Linked DNA regions of Homo sapiens. The protein of the gene in region 2 purifies or fractionates together with the protein of the main gene of each other region. This does not show direct contact. Each region holds a gene or a part of one and is shown on either strand. Other genes may lie near its edges.

Region 1 (5,012 bases), on a different chromosome or scaffold from region 2:
GTCCCAGCTACTCAGGAGGCTGAGGCAGGAGAATCGCTTGAACCAGGGAGGTGGAGGTTGCAGTGAGCTGAGATCACGCCACTGCACTCCAGCCTGGTGACAGAGCGAGACTCCATCTCAAACAAACAAACAAACAAAAAAAGAACTCCAGTAGAACAGATACTGTTCAGCACTACCAGGGTTGTGCTAGGTGTGGAAGCTCAGTGAAATCTTAAGAGTTGACAGTTCTTAGAAAAGGGCCATGTGGACAGGGCTGTTCCCTGGAAAGTCCTGTGACCCCTCAGTGACCACTTATTTCTTTTGTTGTCAGCCTTTCCCTATTTTCTTTTCTTTTCTTTTCTTTTTTTTAAGACAAGGTGTTGCTGTGTCACCCAAGCTGGAGTACAGTGGTGGTAATCACGGCAGCCTCTAACTCCTGGACTCAAGTGATCCTCCTGCCTTGGCCTCCCGAGTAGCTGGGACTCTGCAGATATGCACCACCACATGCCCCGCTAATTTATTTTTAGTATTTTAGAAGCAGTGTTTTGCTGTCTTGCCCAGGCTCGGCTTGAACTCCTGGCGTCAAGCTATCCCACCTCCCAAAGTGCTGGGATTATAGGCAGGAGTGCCCAGCCCCAGAGTTCTTACAATGACTTACAAGGTCTTACGTGATCTTGTTGCCTCCCTTTTGCTCTCTGACCTCATCTTTTTTTTTTTTTTTGAGATGGAGTCTCACTCTGCCACCCAGGCTGGAGTACAGTGGCTCACTGCAGTCTTCACCTCCCAGGTTCAAGTGATTATCCTGCCTCAGCCTCCCGAGTTAGCTGGGAATACAGGCACGTGTCACCAGGCCCGGCTAATTTTTGCATTTTTTTTTTCAGTAGAGATGAGGTTTCACCAGGTTGGCCAGTCTGGTCTGGAACTCCTGGCCTCACATGATCCGCCTGCCTCGGCCTCCCAAAGTGATGAGATTACAGGCGTGAGCCACCGCGCCCGGCCTAGTCACTTTTTTCTTAATTGCAACCCCGATTCTCAGCACCCTTTTCATCTTGGTTTTCCTCAATAGCCCTTACCACCAGCAGACACACATCATCTGTTGTACTTGCTTATTTGGCACATATGTATCCACAGCGCCTAGAACACTGCCTGTAACGTGGAAGGTGTTCGATCTATAGAGTTTTGTCGAATGAATGAATGAAGCCGACTAGTGCACAGGGAGTGCAGCGGCGCGATGGTAGCTCTCTGCAGCCTCCAACACCTGGGCTCCAGTGATCCCCGGGCTCTGCCCACCCTCCCCACTGCCACTTCCGGGCAGAGGCCAGCAAAGCGGCGGCGCAAGAGGTAGGGAGAGAGGAGCTGAGGCCCCAGATCAGCGGCCGCGGGCAAGGTCGCTCAGCGGGCACCCGGCCTGGGTATCGGGGCGCGGGTCGGGGGCGGGGCCGGGGCTCAGGGGTGGGGCCGGGCCGGGCCGGGCCGGGCGCCTGCGCCATAAAGGCCGCCGCGCGCCCACGCGCCTCGCTTGCTGCGCGCTGCCGGCGCTCCTTCCTCCTCGGCTCGCGTCTCACTCAGTGTACCTTCTAGTCCCGCCATGGCCGCTCTCACCCGGGACCCCCAGTTCCAGAAGCTGCAGCAATGGTACCGCGAGCACCGCTCCGAGCTGAACCTGCGCCGCCTCTTCGATGCCAACAAGGACCGCTTCAACCACTTCAGGTGCGGGCGGGCCGGAGGCGGGGGCTGCCACGCGCGGCGCCCGGAACCGGGCACGCGGGCCTGGGGTCTGGAGGCGGGGGCAGCGGTGCCCGGGGACCCCAGTCCCCGACCTCCAGGCCACGGACTGGGGCCCAGGCCGAGTCCGCACTTCGTCCTTGGAGTCTCCTTGGAGTGCGTTCCTGGGGGCTTGCAGCCTCGCCGGGAGTCTCGGCCCCGGGTCTGCTTCGTTACGAGGAAAAACGGGCCCCTCCGTGGGGACATTTCCCCTCCTCCTCCCCGTGCAGCTCTGGCCATTTGAGCAGGGGCTCCTTTCGCAGTTGTGAAGAGAGGCCTTGGCTGACGCAGCAAGCGGGAAAGGGCTGTCCCTTTCCATCCGCTCCTGGCCACATGAGCTTGGGAGCGTCTGCAGGGCGGGCAGCCCGGGCGGGGGTGTTTGAGGGAGCTGGGTGGAAGGATGGAGACGTCGGGCGTGATTCCTGCAGAAGACACCTGTGCACGACCGGGAAGTGGGAAGGAGTGTTTGAGCAAATCATGGGCGGGAGTGCGGCCAAGGGAGCTCTGATCACTGATACTGGTGGAGGCGGGGGAGGGGAGCGACTGTGGCTCCGGGCTAGACGTCCCGATGGCCATCCCTGTCATCTGGATGGGTGCCTGAGTAACTTACGGCAGAAAGTGGAAGCCCTGGGAAGGGGTGGTCCCCCACTTCAGTCCGGGCTCCTCATCCAGGGTCTGCCTGCATCTACGGTCTGTGAGGATGGCTTCTTTCTCTGGGCTGCTGTTGCAGATCATCCTGGTGGGCCAGCAGGTGACAGACACCACCACTGTGCTGGGTGGCCGCGGCCCTTGTGGGGCGTGGGTCAGGGAGGATGTTTCTTCTGGGAACAGCTCCTGCTTAGGGCATGGCTCCCCGCTAGGGAGACCAGGGTGTGGTCAGCAGCATCTCCATCTTTCTGCAGCTTGACCCTCAACACCAACCATGGGCATATCCTGGTGGATTACTCCAAGAACCTGGTGACGGAGGACGTGATGCGGATGCTGGTGGACTTGGTAATGTTCTGCTTGGGGAGGCATAACTGGTAACCGACAGAGTGGTGGGTGAGCTGGGCTCCTGGGAGTCCCCAGGACCTTGAGTATCTTGAGTTCTTCCTCTCATTAGACCTCAGTCACCTCCTCTGTGCTGGTGAGGCACCTGTCCCTGGCTTAGGTTCTAAGCAGCATCCCAGGGACCCCAGTGTCTGATGTCTGAGTAGACCCTTCCCAGACAGCAGGGGAGGGAACCAGACAGCAGCCGTCTGTCTGTCTCATTGGGGACAGCACCAAGCCTTGTGTTTGGGGGCTGACACTTGGGGTGGCCAGTGTGGGTGGGACCAGGCCTCAGTATCGTCTCTTCCTAGGCCAAGTCCAGGGGCGTGGAGGCCGCCCGGGAGCGGATGTTCAATGGTGAGAAGATCAACTACACCGAGGTGAGCAGGCCCCACATACCCTCTGGGGCCTCCTTCCTTCCCTTTGGGGTTTATCTGACTGTTAGCCGCATCACCCTGTGTCTTCACCCCTTCTCTTGGGCAATGCTTTTGCTTAATGAGGGGCCTGAAGGCCTTTTTCCTCCTGCTTGTAGCAGGGCTTTGGGGTGTGCCTTCCACAAGATTGGTTTGGTGAGCTCCTTGGAATGGTTCCCAGTGTCTGCCTGGGAGGAGCATATCTCATACCCACAGGGAGAGTTTCTCAAGGCTGACATTTTCTTGGAGAAGTTAACTCTAATATATCCTCAATGCAAGTTTTAGTAGCGACAAGAAGAATCTTAGATCACCAAAGACTTCAGCCTACTCAAGCAGTAGGAGTCAATAGGAAGCAGTGGTGAGGCCAGGCCTGGGGGCCCCTGTTCCTGACTCAGTATGGGAGCCCAGCCTGGAGGTATAATGGACACTGAGCACCCAGACTCTGTCCTCATGATGTCATTATCCTCCTCTTACATGTGAGGAGTCTGAGGTTCAGAGGTCACATCACTTATCTAAGATGTCATAGCTGTAAGAGGCAGAATGGAGATTCACACTCAACCTGTCTTGCATTGTGGGTCTAAGCTGAGAGAGGATGCAATCAAGGAAGGCTTTCTGGAGGAGTGCATTTGCCAATAAAATGTGGCGCAGGAGTGGGGTCTGGCAGGGTGAGGGTGGGGTGGCATGAAGCCCTCCACCTTAGCAAGCCTCTCACTGGGTCGGAATCCCAAGATGATCCTTTTCCTGCCCACCTGGGGTCGTTAGACCTTCCCTCAAGGACTCCTCTGCTGACTTCAGGCCATTTCACTCACGTGGCTGGGCCAGCCGCCTGGCACCCGTCACAGACTTCAAGTCTGGTTTGGTTCCTGGCAGTTGGTAGTTATCGGGCTGCTTGGTGAGGGAAGCTTGAGTTGCATGCCTTGCTGCAAATCCAAGGAGCTGAGGACACTGCCTAAAACGTGCCAGCAAACACCATGGACACACATTGGGAGGATGAGGTTACTTCAGGCTTCATGAGCACTCATCTTCGGAAAGCGTTTATTTATTTATTTATTTTGAGATGGAGTCTTGCTCTGTCGCCCAGGCTGGAGTGCAGTGGTGCGATCTTGGCTCACTGCAACCTCTGTCTAATGGGTTCAGGCGATTCTCTGCCTCAGATTCCTGAGTAGCTGGAACTACAGGTGTGTGCCACCCCCACCTGGCTGATTTTTGTATTTTTAGTAGAGACAGGATGTCACCATGTTGGCCAGGCTGGTCTCGAATTCATGACCTCAAGTTATCCACCTGCCATGGCCTCCCAGAGTTCCGGGATTACAGGCGTGAGCCATGGCGCCCGGCCTCTGAAAGCATTTATTGCTTGTTTCTGACATGTATTGTTGCCATTCTCTGCCTTTGCTCACTGTTCCTCTTTTCTCTCACTGTTCATGCCCTGAGCATCTCTGGCAGGCCTTCGGGGCCTGTCCTAGGCATATATGGGTCCCCTCCTCTCCTCCTGACTGTCTGCAGCACATAAGTCCTTGGGGAGCTCCTACTCCTCTAAGCATACAGTGGGTTCTTGGAACAAGGTTATGGTGCTAACAGAGACCTCAGGGCCTGCCTGTCTAGTGGATAGAGGGCCGAGCTATGGCACCATGCCCAGCTGGGAGCATGGCTGCCTGGGGTTGGGGGGGGCAGTCTTTATATCCTGACCGTAATCCCCAGGGTCGAGCCGTGCTGCACGTGGCTCTGCGGAACCGGTCAAACACACCCATCCTGGTAGACGGCAAGGATGTGATGCCAGAGGTCAACAAGGTTCTGGACAAGATGAAGTCTTTCTGCCAGGTAAGTGGC
Region 2 (4,932 bases):
TTAGAAAGTTGTAGATGTAGATTTAATTTATAGAATTCAGCTGAAGAAAATGATGTTATTTTTATTTTCTCTGAAGTAGGAGGAAAAATTGTTAAGAGGGCAAGAATGAGGGCAGCAGGATGGAATAGATAGCCTGAGGCAAGTCATAAAGGGTCGCAATAGATTCTGTTTGGGAACCGAAGAGTAAATTGTCAATAATGAGTAAATTGTCAATAATAAATAAAAATAATGATGGTTCCCATTGTTAATTAGGTATGTGGGTAATTTAACTAGACTATATTTATCATCACAATAGAAAACTAAGGCTCAAGATGGTTAAAAATATCTTCCTTTTGTCAGCTGGAAGGTGATACAGGTGGGATTAGAAATCACATATACATGATTTCAAAGTTGCATTCAGGCTCTTTAGGTTGAAGATATTAGATATAGGCTGTCAACATCAGTGGATATTTATCCTCAGAATGAATGCTTTAAAAGACTGACGCTTATACCAGTGTCTTTCATATTTTCATGTAGATCTAATTTGCATACTCAAGAAGTAGGGAGATGGAAATAAATAGACATAAAGTATGCTTTAAGAGTTGAGAGTAGATGAGTTTTAGACTTACATAGAATTTACCCGTTCTTATTTTTTAGTTGCGACAACCACCAGTTAAGCGTTTGAGACTTCGTGGTGATTGGTCAGATACTGGACCCAGAGCAAGGCCGGAGAGTGAACGAGAACGAGATGGTAACTATACTTTGGTCAGCTTTTCTTTGTATATGGTATTTTAAAATTAATATTTTAACTTCCAGTTTCTTCACTATTATAAATTATTCTGTAATGAACATTCTTATACATATAGGTATACTTATGCAAATATATCTTAGGATAAATTCTTAGAAGTGGAATGGCGCAGTCACTGGATAAGTACCTTTTAATTTTGGTAGTTGTTATCAGATTAGTCTCCAAAAAAGATGTGCTAATTTACATTCCCACTGAAAGTATAAGAATGCCCATTACCCCATAGTACGTTGGGTATTGTCAGACTTTGCAGTTTTTGCCTTTCTATTAGATATTAAGAGAAATGAAAACTCAGCCCAAGGGTTTTATATTAGCACATAAAATGTTTTCTATCAAGTGCCTTTGATAAGCATAAGAATCAACCCTGGGAGCTTTAAGATAGCACACTTGAAAATAGAATTAATCTATGAATTATAATTCTATATTATTATGTTTTATTAAATTGGTCTGTAACCAAAATCTTACTATAATGACTTCTGAAACATCTCTTGTGATCAAAAGCATATTCCCCAATATATGAGCTACATTATATAAAGGCAATAAAGTGTAAAAGAAACTCTGATTTCACAGAAAATGTAAGAAGAACCGATTTTCATTTTAAATTATAAGACTATAGAATAGAGTTGTCACATTTTGAATTTGACATTACACTTTTAATTTGAAAATACCCTTGGAAAAACTTGTTTACTTGCAGGAGGAAAAGGAGTGAGGGAAGAGACAAAATACTTTCTGGTTCCAGTTAATTTCAAATATCTGAAATTTGCTTACAGTAAATGATGTTGAAAATAAATTGACTTTAAGGAAACTTCATGCAAAAGCATAAGGCTATTTTGTGTCTGTACTTGATTATAATGCTTTAGGGAGAGGGAAAACCTTTCTTTTAATCTATTAAACTTAGAATTCATGAGCCTTTCTTGGCTGGGTACTCTTAGAACTAAAAATTTAGGTTGAGGTAGGAAGTGGGAGGTTTAGTGGTACCTAAGAATAGGCAAAGATGAAGGAGAGGTGAGCCCTGTTCTCAAGAAACCTTACCATACACATGGAAAGTCACTGATATAAACAATTACTATAAAATGTGATGAGAGCTCTAATAGATTTATATACATTCATACAATTTATTTAGGAAATTTGATTTTTAAAAATATGCTTTCATTTTAAAGCCCTTCAAATCTAGGTTTTTGTATTAATGAAAGATTCTGACTTATTACTAAACTCACTGATAAGACCTATATTGTAATAGGAGAGCAGAGTCCCAATGTGTCATTGATGCAGAGAATGTCTGATATGTTATCAAGATGGTTTGAAGAAGCAAGTGAGGTTGCACAAAGCAATAGAGGACGAGGAAGATCTCGACCCAGAGGTAATTTTTAATGTTAATTAAAGTCATCAGAAAGCTGGCAAAAACTACTTATTGAAGCCAGTTTTTATTTCTATCATGTAAATTATACCATGTTTTACATCTGTAATAATCACAAGGTTCTTATTGTGTGGTGTGAAGTAGTAGAGAATAAAAGATATTGGATATAATTTGTCCCTTCTGGTGCCATTGGACCTAGTGCGTATCTTTTGCTTTTCTCAAAGTAAAGTAGAAGAATCTGAGGTTTCCTATTTTAAGCCTTTTTTTAATGCACTCTGAGAATGGAAATATATAAAATTCTGTGTATAAACAAGTTTTATGTAATAGGAAAGATTGATTGCTTTAACAAGAATATGTTGTAGATAAGTTTTTATCCCTCTTGACTGGCCTATTTTGTCAAATGGGCCAAATCACCAGTAGTTATTATCACTGAAATTATATATTTGTGTGTGTAAATATAAATGTGTTTTCTGAGCATATCTGTTTAGAGTTGTTGGTTTTAGAAAATATTTAAAATTTGAATTTGCCTTAACATGTGTTTTGAAGGTGGAACAAGTCAATCAGATATTTCAACTCTTCCTACGGTCCCATCAAGTCCTGATTTGGAAGTGAGTGAAACTGCAATGGAAGTAGATACTCCAGCTGAACAATTTCTTCAGCCTTCTACATCCTCTACAATGTCAGCTCAGGCTCATTCGACATCATCTCCCACAGAAAGCCCTCATTCTACTCCTTTGCTATCTTCTCCAGACAGTGAACAAAGGCAGTCTGTTGAGGCATCTGGACACCACACACATCATCAGTCTGGTGAGGATAAGTATGCTGTGGTTCATCTAATGATTTTTGATAGTGAAAATTTCTTTACTGGCTATTTTGAAAGATACTAAATCACATCAACTTCTTGTTGGAATAAATGATCAAAATGACATGTAATATATGGTTATGTAACTTAAACACAAAAATTAATTATGTCTTACTTGCATGAATTTTAACAAATAGCAGGAATCTTCAATTTATATAAAACAATTGTTTTAAAAGTACAAGTACCAAAAGATAGTGTTTTGACATAGTTTAATGTGCCTGACTTAAATATTATTTTATAGATTATTAGAGACCAAAATATCTTTCTAGATTTATTTGGTTTTATGTCTATATTAAAGTGATTATGAAAATATCAGTATTAGTTTCACTTTGCTTATATTCTTGATTATTTCCCTCAAATAATGCAGTACTTTTAATATACTCTCTATGGTGGATTTGATATGGTCTTTTGTCAACAACATATAATTTACCAAAAAATTTGTTTCTCTAGTATTTACATGAAAAAGAATTATTTTACCAAATGCTTATCTTCTTGATACTTGATGCTAGTGAAAATAACCTCTACGTTCTGTTAAAATGCTATTTTTTTCTCAGTATTATAAGTCTTTATGGTCAACTTTTTTCCCCTAACTATGGAATGTGCTAGTATTTATAATAGTAATTTTCAGCAGATGTATCTACAGTTTACTCGGTACTTTAAACTATATACATGTAATTATAAAAACCAATAAGATATTTATTCATAGTTTTCTTTGGTTCTTCTAAGGAAGAATTTTACTCAATATAGAGCCAGAATTATTAGCAACTAGAAATATAGCTGGCAGGCCTAAGCTGAAACCTATAAAAAAATTTCTAACAGCTTAGCTGCCAAGCTGTCACTTTATTCTTACATCTCTGGAAACTGATGCCAGATTACCAAATATGGGATGTTTTAATTTAAGCACTCTTTTATCAGTATATACCACTTTTAGTAATTCATTTTCAGTTTCTATGGGAATAAAAGCCAGAGTCAGTTACATAACTGTTAACACTGTATACATTTTATCCATAATAATAAGCTAAAGCTGAGCTACAGAATCAAGGTTTTCACACTCAGTTGACATAGCATTTTAATTTATGGAAAAATAAAATATTTTGGAAGATTTGGGAATTAAAAGCAGAAGTAGTTAAAAGTTTGTTTTTCAAAGCAGGTAAAATTGGGAAAAGCAAGAATTTTTAAAGTGATATTCTTGAACATATTGATCAATTATAAGTTTTTAGGAAAACTTAGCAAGAAGACTCTAGCTTACATTCAGCTTCCACTGAATCTCAACTAATTCTAGTTGTTTCTTAAATATATTTATGAGTAAAGTATTTGGAACTTTATTTTTTAAAGCTATCTAATGCATTTTAATTACTGCATTTCAAATTGCTAAATTCCTTTCAATATTTAATGTAAGTATTAAATGTGACAATCATTTGAATTATTGAAGAAGAAAAAATATCTTTGGTGGTCATGTGATGATTATTGAAACATTATGCAGTACTTTTACTCATAAATTATTTATAGGAAGTAAGGAAATATTTTTAACTGGGAGATTATTGAGAGAATTTTGGTTGACTAAGCTATAGATAATTAGAATATTTCCATGTTATCAAGACATTATCACTATTGAGAAAAATGATTTGGTGTTAGATGTAACATCTGAAGGTTATGACTGTAGTTGTTCTGATAACAGCTTTTTCATTATTCTGGAGTTCAACGTTTCAGGAGTAAGGACTTAATTTGTTTCTGTTTTTGTTTTTTGTCCAATCTCTTTTGCATTTGCCATAGCCTAAGTCCAAATGTGTTTGTGAATATTGGGAATTGTCCATTGGGTGAATGTAGTAGATGGAAATGTCAGCTTAGGACCATGATTTCTATTATTTCCCTGCATAGAGATAGAGAAAATGATAAAGTATACTTCTGTCTATGCTTGCCTTGCTGTGG
Region 3 (4,216 bases), on a different chromosome or scaffold from region 2:
TTATTAGGTTTTAGCTTACCTAGATTGAATTCTGACACCGATTAAAAGGGTAAAAAATTAAAATGGTTTTCTTAAGTTTCTAATTGTGAAAGTATAGAGGCCATTATGATACATTGATTTAATAATTTTTACTTACTCATTTCAGGAATATGTCAAGATAAGGGGGTGGTATTTTGTCATTGAATCTAGGAAGAGTTTGTTAATGGATTTTTAGAGGACAAGCTTTCACCTGTTTGGTAACTCTGAGAGAATAGACCAAGTCATAGTATTTATCTATTGTTTTAATATTAGAAGCAACCTTTGCTGGTTCTCTCCAGCAGTAGAGGAAGATCTTTGTCTTTTTTTTTTGGTTCAATGAGACTCATCCTTTTACTATAGAGAACAAGTTATTGACTTAATAGTCATAGGTTTTTTTGTTTTATTTTAGGTATGATGCATTGTGTATTCTCCTTCGTCACAGCAAGAATGTACGTTTTTGGTTTGCTCATAACGTCCTTTTTAATGTTTCAAATCGCTTCTCCGAATACCTTCTGGAGTGCCCTAGTGCAGAAGTGAGGGGTGCGTTTGCAAAACTTATAGTCTTTATTGCACATTTTTCCTTGCAAGATGGGCCATGTCCTTCACCTTTTGCCTCTCCTGGACCTTCTAGTCAGGTAATTGCACAGCTTTCTTTCTAAATGATGAGATGTTTACAAATAAATTGTGTTTCCTGGAAGTCGAAGTCACAAGCATATGTGCATCCACTTGATATGTTTACCTAACAGAAACACACAATATGATGTCAGTGAGTTCCATTTAATATTACTGCATGGCAATGAATAGTAATTATTGGCTCTTTAAAAATGTAAGAGAATTTTCTCTGTTCGGTTACATGCAGTAGCTTAATTATAAGTTTACTGTTAAGTAGATTTTTTCCTATTTTGAAGGTTTTTTAAATAGTCTTAGATTTTTTTAAAAAATTACAAGTGTAAAAAATTATAATGAAATCCGCCTCTGATCTTCATTCCCTTTCCCAAGAAGCAAAATAGTTTAGTTTGTGTGATCAGTCCTTCCATAAATGTATGCCTGTATCAGCATATGTGCATGTCCTTTTTATGCAAGTAGAAGTATACATATACCTTGTTGCTGTAAAACAGGTAATGTTTTATCCTTTACAGGCTTATGACAACTTAAGCTTGAGTGATCACTTACTAAGAGCAGTACTAAATCTCTTGAGAAGGGAAGTTTCAGAGCATGGGCGTCATTTACAGCAGTATTTCAACCTGTTTGTAATGTATGCCAATTTAGGTAAGAATTTAAGTTTTTCAGAATTCTGTTTTGATGTATCATATTAAATTGTGAAGTCATTTAGGTCAAGTGATGAAATATAATCTGATCTGAAGTAGAAACAATTTCCCATAAAACCTGTTGTGAATTTTATCTGAACATGGCACTTTCACCTTTTACTTTGTTTATGCATGTGTCTTTGTGGTAGACACAGGTCAGAATCTGTGTTTTGATTTTTTTTTTTTTTTAATCTCCTAATGCAGTGGTGCCAAATCTGGCTGCTTTTGGAAAATACTGGTTTCTAGGCCTCTTCTCACACTGATTGAATCAGCATCCCCAAAGCTAATGTCAGGGAATCCATGTTTTCAAAGGGGTCCCCAAATGGTTGTGATACTCACCAAATTTAGATAGCAGACTTGGTCTGTACATAAGTTTTTGTTTAAGTAAACTACAATTATGGATAATATAAATACTCGCTTAAAATATTAATTTAGGGGCCGGGCACAATGGCTTATGCCTGTACTCCCAGCACTTTGGGAGGCCAAGGCAAGAGGATTGCTTGAGCCCAGGAGACTAACCTAGGCACCATAGGGAGACCCTATCTCTACAAAATAAAATTTTAAAATTAGCTGGATGTAGTGGCATATGCCTGTAGTCCTAGCTACTTGGGAGGCTGAGGTGGGAGAATCACTTGAGCTAAGGAGGTTGAGGCTGCAGTGACCCGTGATTGCACCACTGCACTCCAGCCTGGGCAACAGAATGAGACCCTGTCTCCAAAAAGCAAACAAACCAAAAAGTCATATATCCAAAATGAAGTTCTATATCCAGGCGTACCTGTCGTTTCAGGTTTTTTTTCTGTGATCTTACTTAATCACCATTGGATCCATGGCCCTTTTAACATAAGGGAGATTGTACTTTTCATTTGTCTATTTAGTTTGTCTTCTTTTCCCTTGTCTTTTCCGTAATTGCAGATATTTGGGTATTTGTAGATGAGAAAGAGAATATTTATTACACAGACAAGCATAAGTGGAATCTGTATTTCAAACTTAAAAATGCCAAATTTAGACATTCAGAAGAATCCTATTCTGTTCAACTCTTTTAGATATTGCCTGTTCACAAAGCACACATCATTGTTCCATAATGTAACCTACTTGTAAAATTTTCCTGCTGAAAACAAATACTGTAGGGCCTGTAAACCTTAATATGAAGTCCTTAAGATCAGATATGCATTGGGATTGAGAATTGTTTGGATTTAAGAAAAGCAAGGCAGTGCATATACCAACATCTCTATAGCAGGGTCTGAGACAACAACTTACAATTGAACACATTAATATTTCTACAGTAAAATATGAATATTTATACTGAAGGGAGAAATAAAGACTATAAGTAGCCTTTAGTCAGTTTGGGCTAGGTTATCCCACCAACCACATTTTGACAGCAACTTAATGAAAAACTTTGTTGGGCTGGGCGAGGTGGCTCATGCCTGTAATCCCAGCACTTTGGGAGGCCGAGGCAGGCGGATCACCTGAGGTATGGAGTTCAAGACCAGCCTGGCAAACATGGCGAAACCCCATCTCTACTTAAAAATACAAAAATTAGCAGGGCGTGGTGGCGGGCATCTGTAGTCCCAGCTATTCGGGAGGCTGAGGCTTGAATCTGGGAGGCAGAGGTTGCAATGAGCCAAGATCGCGCCACTGCACTCCAGCCTGGGCAACAGGGCAAGACTCCGTCTCAAAAAAAAAAAAAAAACTTGTTATAATAATAGCTTTTGGGCCAGGCGCGGTGGCTCACGTCTGTAATCCCAGCACTTTGGGAGGCCGAGGCAGGCAGATCACAAGGTCAGGAGTTCAAGACCAGCCTGACCAACATGGTGAAACCCCGTCTCTACTAAATATACAAAAATTAGCCGGGCGTGGTGGCACATGCGTGTAATCCCAGCTACTCAGGAGGCTGAGGCAGAAGAATCGCTTGAACCCAGAAGGCGGAGGTTGCAGTGAGCTGAGATCACACCACTGCACTCCAGCCTGGGAGACAAAGCGAGACTCCATCTTAAAAAAAATTAAAAATTAAAATAGCTTTTGGAATCTTAGGATTTCAGATAAGAGGTTGTGGACCTGTTTTTATTATGTTTTTGGGAATATGGCAATAAATAAGATTGTCTAATGGGATATAGAAGCAAATAATGTAGTTGCCATAAAATATGTTAATAGCTATAATAGGGAAAATGCAAAGTGCATCACGGGGGGCATGGTACCTGAAGGGATTTGGGGAGTGCAGAAGACTTAATGGGGAATGTAACGTGGGAATTGGTTAGTTGAGCTTTCCATCTAGAGTGTGAACAGCAGATGCAAAGACTTGATAAACTTGGCGTGGCTTATTGGATGGGATGAAAATTGTCCAGTCTGACTAGAATTGATGTAAGATGGGAATGGCAGGAGTTTCTGATCATGCAGTTCTAATAGGCCTTGTGAGAGAGACTGAGGCATTGGATGAGCCATTGTAGGGTTTTGAACAGATAATACCATCTAGAAAGAGCACTGTGGCCACAGTGTGGAATGTATTGCAGTGGAGTAAGATCCCAGAGAGTGTTAAAATGATCTATAGACATAAGATCATTGTGACCTGTACTGGAGAACTGGCAGTGAGGGAGATACAAGTGGACAGATAGATATATGGTGCTTTTTATAAGAAGTGGAATCAGTGGATTTGGTGATGGGATATTCAGAGAAGGAGGGGACAGGGAAGAGATGTGAAGAATGATGCCCAAAATTCTAACATGAACAACTGTGAGTGGATAGTGGTACCATTTACTGAGGGGAAACACAGGAGGAGAAACATGTATGTATGGGAAGAAAGGGGTGAGTTCAGTTTGGGTAGATTGAGTTTGAGCCTGTGTGACACCCAAATGGAGATATACAGTAGAACAGTAAGTAATTTGTCTTGAAATGTT
Region 4 (4,216 bases), on a different chromosome or scaffold from region 2:
GTCCAGAAACTTCATAATTGACACTGGCTCTAATCTCAGTATACGTAAATTGTGGTCTTTCATATCTTTCTTCTCTCCCAAGCTGAGAGCTTCTTGAGGGCAGGCACAGTGTCTGACTGTGGCCCTGGTGATGCACAATGAGTATTTCTCAAATGAATGACAGACTGTCTTCCAGCGTTCCACGCACACACTGTCTCCCCCATTGTTCACTGCCACAGGAAAGCACTCCCCACGATCCCACCATTGCCCAGTGCTTTTGCAAACCCTCCAGCCATCCAGAGTGGGAAAGATTCTCCCACTCTGGCCCGCCTTCTTTTGCATTGACCTTAAGTGATTATGCGGGCACAGTTTATAGCTTGGCCACCAGAGGACTAGTCTCAATGCTCAGGATTTTTGAGAGCAACGTCACAAGGGCTTCATTGACATAGCAGCATTTAGAGGCAGATTATTTGTTAGTTTCAGACTAAATCTGGGGCACCTGTCCATTTTGAGGATCTGGTGCCTTTAAAGTACCACTTGCCCTGCTATATCCGGAAATTTATTGGGAAAATACTATGTATCTTCTTCTAGCGTAAAGACAGAAAAAAAAAGGGAGGGGGTGCTGATGTTATGATAATCTGCCCCCTGCAGGACTTTTGAGGGAGAATGGGTCCCTGGGTAAGGGCGGCACGAAGACCGCCCTGGGCTTCAGGCTTGCCTAGTTGGGGTGCTCCACTCCAGCCTCAGCCCACCTCTGGTCGCCTGATCCTTCAAGCTGACAAGCTCTGGACTTGGAAGACTGCTTGGGCGGGCCACAAAGCCTTTGACCTCAGCTGCCTCATCAGTAAGACACTCACCAACCACATCTGTCTCACAGAATCATGTCATGGTAAATGAGAAAAAGTGTGTTAAAGTGTGTTGAAAAATGTGGAGTCCTGTGGCAATATAAGACATGTTTATTATACCTCAATCTCACCACTTAGATCACTACCCAGGGTTAGGATGAACACAAACAATAGCAAATCACAATTATAACAGGTTGAAAGTGATTTTGAGCACTTGAAGGAAAATGATAGCAGAAAATAACAAGTTTTTAATGATTAAATAGAAATTACTCTTTAGATTGTGCAAGATAAATTACTATTACTCAACATAAAATTATAACAAAACTTGTTTCAAAAATCAGAAGAGAAATAATCATTGGGACTTTGAATATCAGCATGTCACCCTATAGCCCTACATTTTTACATTTTTTGTGTGACTGCCTAATTTATTTCAAAACACTTAAAGTAAGTCGCTGGGCGCGGTGGTTCATGCCCGTAATCTCAACCCTTTGGGAGGCCGAGGCGGATGGATCACCTGAGGTCAGGAGTTCAAGACCAGCCTGGCCAACATGGTGAAACTCTGTCTCTACTAAAAATACAAAAAAAAATTAGCCAGGCGTGGTGGCAGGTGCCTGTAATCCCAGCTACTCGAGAGGCTGAGGCAGGAGAATCGCTTGAACCCAGGAGGTGGAGGTTGCAGTGAGCTGAGATCGCACCACTGCACTCCAGCCTGGGCAACAAAACGAGACTCTGTCTCAAAAAAAAAAAAAAGTAAGTCACATACTGTTTTTCCTGATCTTCACACTAGAATTGGTACATAGTTACTTGGTTTAGATTCTCAAGATAGTACTCTTCATTATCTAACAGACTCTAGATAACCTGAAGGAAGGGAAACACCATCTACGCGTACGGCCTGCAGACCTACCTGTTGCTGAGAGAGCATCTCTGAACTACTGGCGTACATGGAAGTGTATTAGCAAACCCTCAGAATTTCCAATTAAAAGCCCAGCCTTTACAGGTGAATTGGGATAGGCTGTCCCTCCCTAAAGCCCACACCAACTTTCCCTCTCCTCACCCTAACAGAAGTGGCTTCCATCCAGAGAGCAGAGAGTGCCTGATTTCTGAGGCAGTCTCTGTCATCTCCTTTGATCTTCTGCCCTGCCACAGGCCCTCTCCATGGCTGCTTGCCTGCTGGAACCAACATTCTCCTCCACACTCACTCCTCTGCATTCTGGCTTCATGTGGGCAAGGCGAGGTTTCATTCCACTCCCTCCTATTCATCAGGGAATGCCACCATTCTTTTGAGTTTCCTCCAACCACCACACACAGAATGTCCCTAAATAATCACTGTCTGATGGGTGCCTGGCAGCATAGTTCAGCCTATCTGAGACATGAGTACAAAGCATTTATGATTATTGATGGATTTTAGCTTCCAGGAGTGTCAAAAGCATCTATTTTGTCTGTGGATCACTGTGTTTGGTTTGATCAATTAGAATCAAATGGGTAAATGAATTTAATGACTTTGGATACATAAGTCAAAATGTCACATGTCCCACTGCCCTTCACTGTTTATAGAAAAAATATAGATTTCCAGCTGGGCACGGTGGCTCATGCCTGTAATCCCAGCATTTTGGGAGGCTGAGGCAGATGGATCACGTGAGGTCAGGAGTTCGAGACCAGCCTGACAACATGGTGAAACCCCGTCTCTACTGAAAACACAAAAATTAGCTGGGTGTGGTGGCACGTGCCTGTAGTCCCAGCTACTTGGGAGGCTGAGGCAGGAGAACCAGTTGAATCTGAGAGACAGAGGTTGCAGTGAGCCAAGATGGCACCACTGAATTCCAGCCTGGGCAACAGAGTGAGACTCCATCTCAAAAAAGAAAAGAAAAAAAAATAGACTTCCATGCCCCACTCCCTACCACACTCCTTAGGGCTACAACTGAAAAGATAAAGAAGGAAGATGTGTCTGGCAAGTGGCAAGGACCATATCCTGGGGGGTCTCTCTAGCATCCTCTGGGGCCCCTGGGTCAGTGAAAGCCCTGCTGGAATCAGATCCCTGGCTTCTGAGAGGTGGCAACACTGCCTGCATGTTCTCTTCCAGGCCTACATGATAAGGCACCTCTGGGGCTCATGGACACACCCCTGTTAGACACAGAAGAGGAGGTGCACTACTGCTTCCTGCCCCTAGACCTGGTGGCCAAATATCCCAGCCTAGTGACTGAAGACAACCTGCTGTGGCTGGCTGAGACGGTGGCCCTCATCGAGTGCGAGTGCAGCGAGTTCCGCTTCATTGGTGATTGCTCTGTCCGGGGTGGGGTGGGGGGCGGGCTGATAGGGCCCATTCACCCCTCCCCATCACATGTCCCACAGAGGCCCAGCTTGGTGCTCAGGGCCTCAGGAGCTTCCCTGGGCAGAGGTAGCGGAAGCATGACAGAGCCTTCCAGGAAGCAAGCAGATTCCAGCATTAGAATCTCACTAGACTCAGGGCTGTTTTATTCCCTATTTGTTTTGGGATGGCCTGGCTGTAAAAGTGTCAGGCACTGGAAAGTGCTAGGGACCACAGGAGTTGGTGTGAAGGGCAGGGAGCTCAGCTGGTTGCCAGTCGGCTTCTCTTCTTACTCTGCCCTTATGTATCCAGCTGGTCTTCCGGCCTCAGTTCCTCTCACCATAAAATGAGGAATCCAGATTGTTTCAAAGGATGGTGCTACCTGCTCTTAATGTCAGCAAACTCAGAATAAAAGGGAAGGAGGGTGGATGGTGACAGGTTCCCCCAGAGTCATAGCAGAATTGTCCACTTGAGGTAGTGGCCTAAGGAAGGATGAGATTTTCCACCTTTGACAGAGAGAGCCTCTCTCCCCCTACTGCCCCAGGATGAGCTCTGTTTGGGATGTGAACTGAATGATCTCTTTGACCCCAAGATGCTACTGCTGTCTAGATAGATAGGGCAGTAAACACTCAAGTTACACTAGGAGCCCAAATGTCTGGAACCCCAGTCATTCATATTCATAGTCACCTAGAAAGTTGTCTGTGATGTGCTTCTGTATCTCTAAGTTGATTCACACAGGACATTAGCGTTGGCTCCATCTCTGCCTCCCATACTGCAGTCCAGGCAGGGACAAACTGCAAGTGCCACCCGCCAGCCCAGGCTCGGCCGGGCCCCTCCTCTCTAAGCAGCAAGACAACTCCCTCTTTTGGAATGACCTGCTCTTGGGTCAAAACTCACAGGGTAAGTCTCAGGGCCAGTGTGCCCACCAGGAGGGCCTGGCTTGGGAGCCCCAGGCCAAGCCACGGGAGGCCACACCCACGGCCTCAGACACAGGAAAACAAAGTAATGTGGGGTCTTTCGCCTTGAAAACCACACACTCAAAGCTAATCTAATAAGGTATGTTGATAAGTTGTTTCAGAACAAGGAG

The links.
Region 1: the proteins of DCAF6 (region 2) and GPI purify together in Homo sapiens (affinity purification with mass spectrometry, with the first as the bait; one large-scale study listed by BioGRID). This does not show direct contact.
Region 3: the proteins of DCAF6 (region 2) and USP9X purify together in Homo sapiens (affinity purification with mass spectrometry; 2 studies listed by BioGRID, with this or other methods). This does not show direct contact.
Region 4: the proteins of DCAF6 (region 2) and KCTD19 purify together in Homo sapiens (affinity purification with mass spectrometry, with the first as the bait; one large-scale study listed by BioGRID). This does not show direct contact.

The regions. Positions count from the first base shown.
Region 1 is NC_000019.10:34,363,700-34,368,711, forward strand, and holds the start of GPI (glucose-6-phosphate isomerase), read left to right. Parts: upstream 1-1,496; 5' UTR 1,497-1,560; coding exon of another isoform or gene 1,561-1,567; coding exon 1,568-1,689; intron 1,690-2,645; coding exon 2,646-2,736; intron 2,737-3,083; coding exon 3,084-3,152; intron 3,153-4,883; coding exon 4,884-5,003; intron 5,004-5,012. UniProt on the Homo sapiens protein: In the cytoplasm, catalyzes the conversion of glucose-6-phosphate to fructose-6-phosphate, the second step in glycolysis, and the reverse reaction during gluconeogenesis.
Region 2 is NC_000001.11:168,001,846-168,006,777, forward strand, and holds part of DCAF6 (DDB1- and CUL4-associated factor 6), read left to right. Parts: intron 1-636; coding exon 637-730; intron 731-2,024; coding exon 2,025-2,144; intron 2,145-2,687; coding exon 2,688-2,948; intron 2,949-4,932. UniProt on the Homo sapiens protein: Ligand-dependent coactivator of nuclear receptors. Enhance transcriptional activity of the nuclear receptors NR3C1 and AR. May function as a substrate receptor for CUL4-DDB1 E3 ubiquitin-protein ligase complex.
Region 3 is NC_000023.11:41,217,945-41,222,160, forward strand, and holds part of USP9X (ubiquitin carboxyl-terminal hydrolase 9X), read left to right. Parts: intron 1-427; coding exon 428-653; intron 654-1,157; coding exon 1,158-1,287; intron 1,288-4,216.
Region 4 is NC_000016.10:67,302,026-67,306,241, reverse strand, and holds part of KCTD19 (BTB/POZ domain-containing protein KCTD19), read left to right. Parts: intron 1-1,670; coding exon 1,671-1,821; intron 1,822-2,904; coding exon 2,905-3,096; intron 3,097-4,216. UniProt on the Homo sapiens protein: Transcription regulator which is essential for male fertility and for the completion of meiotic prophase in spermatocytes. Regulates progression of the pachytene stage of meiotic prophase and promotes the transcriptional activation activity ZNF541.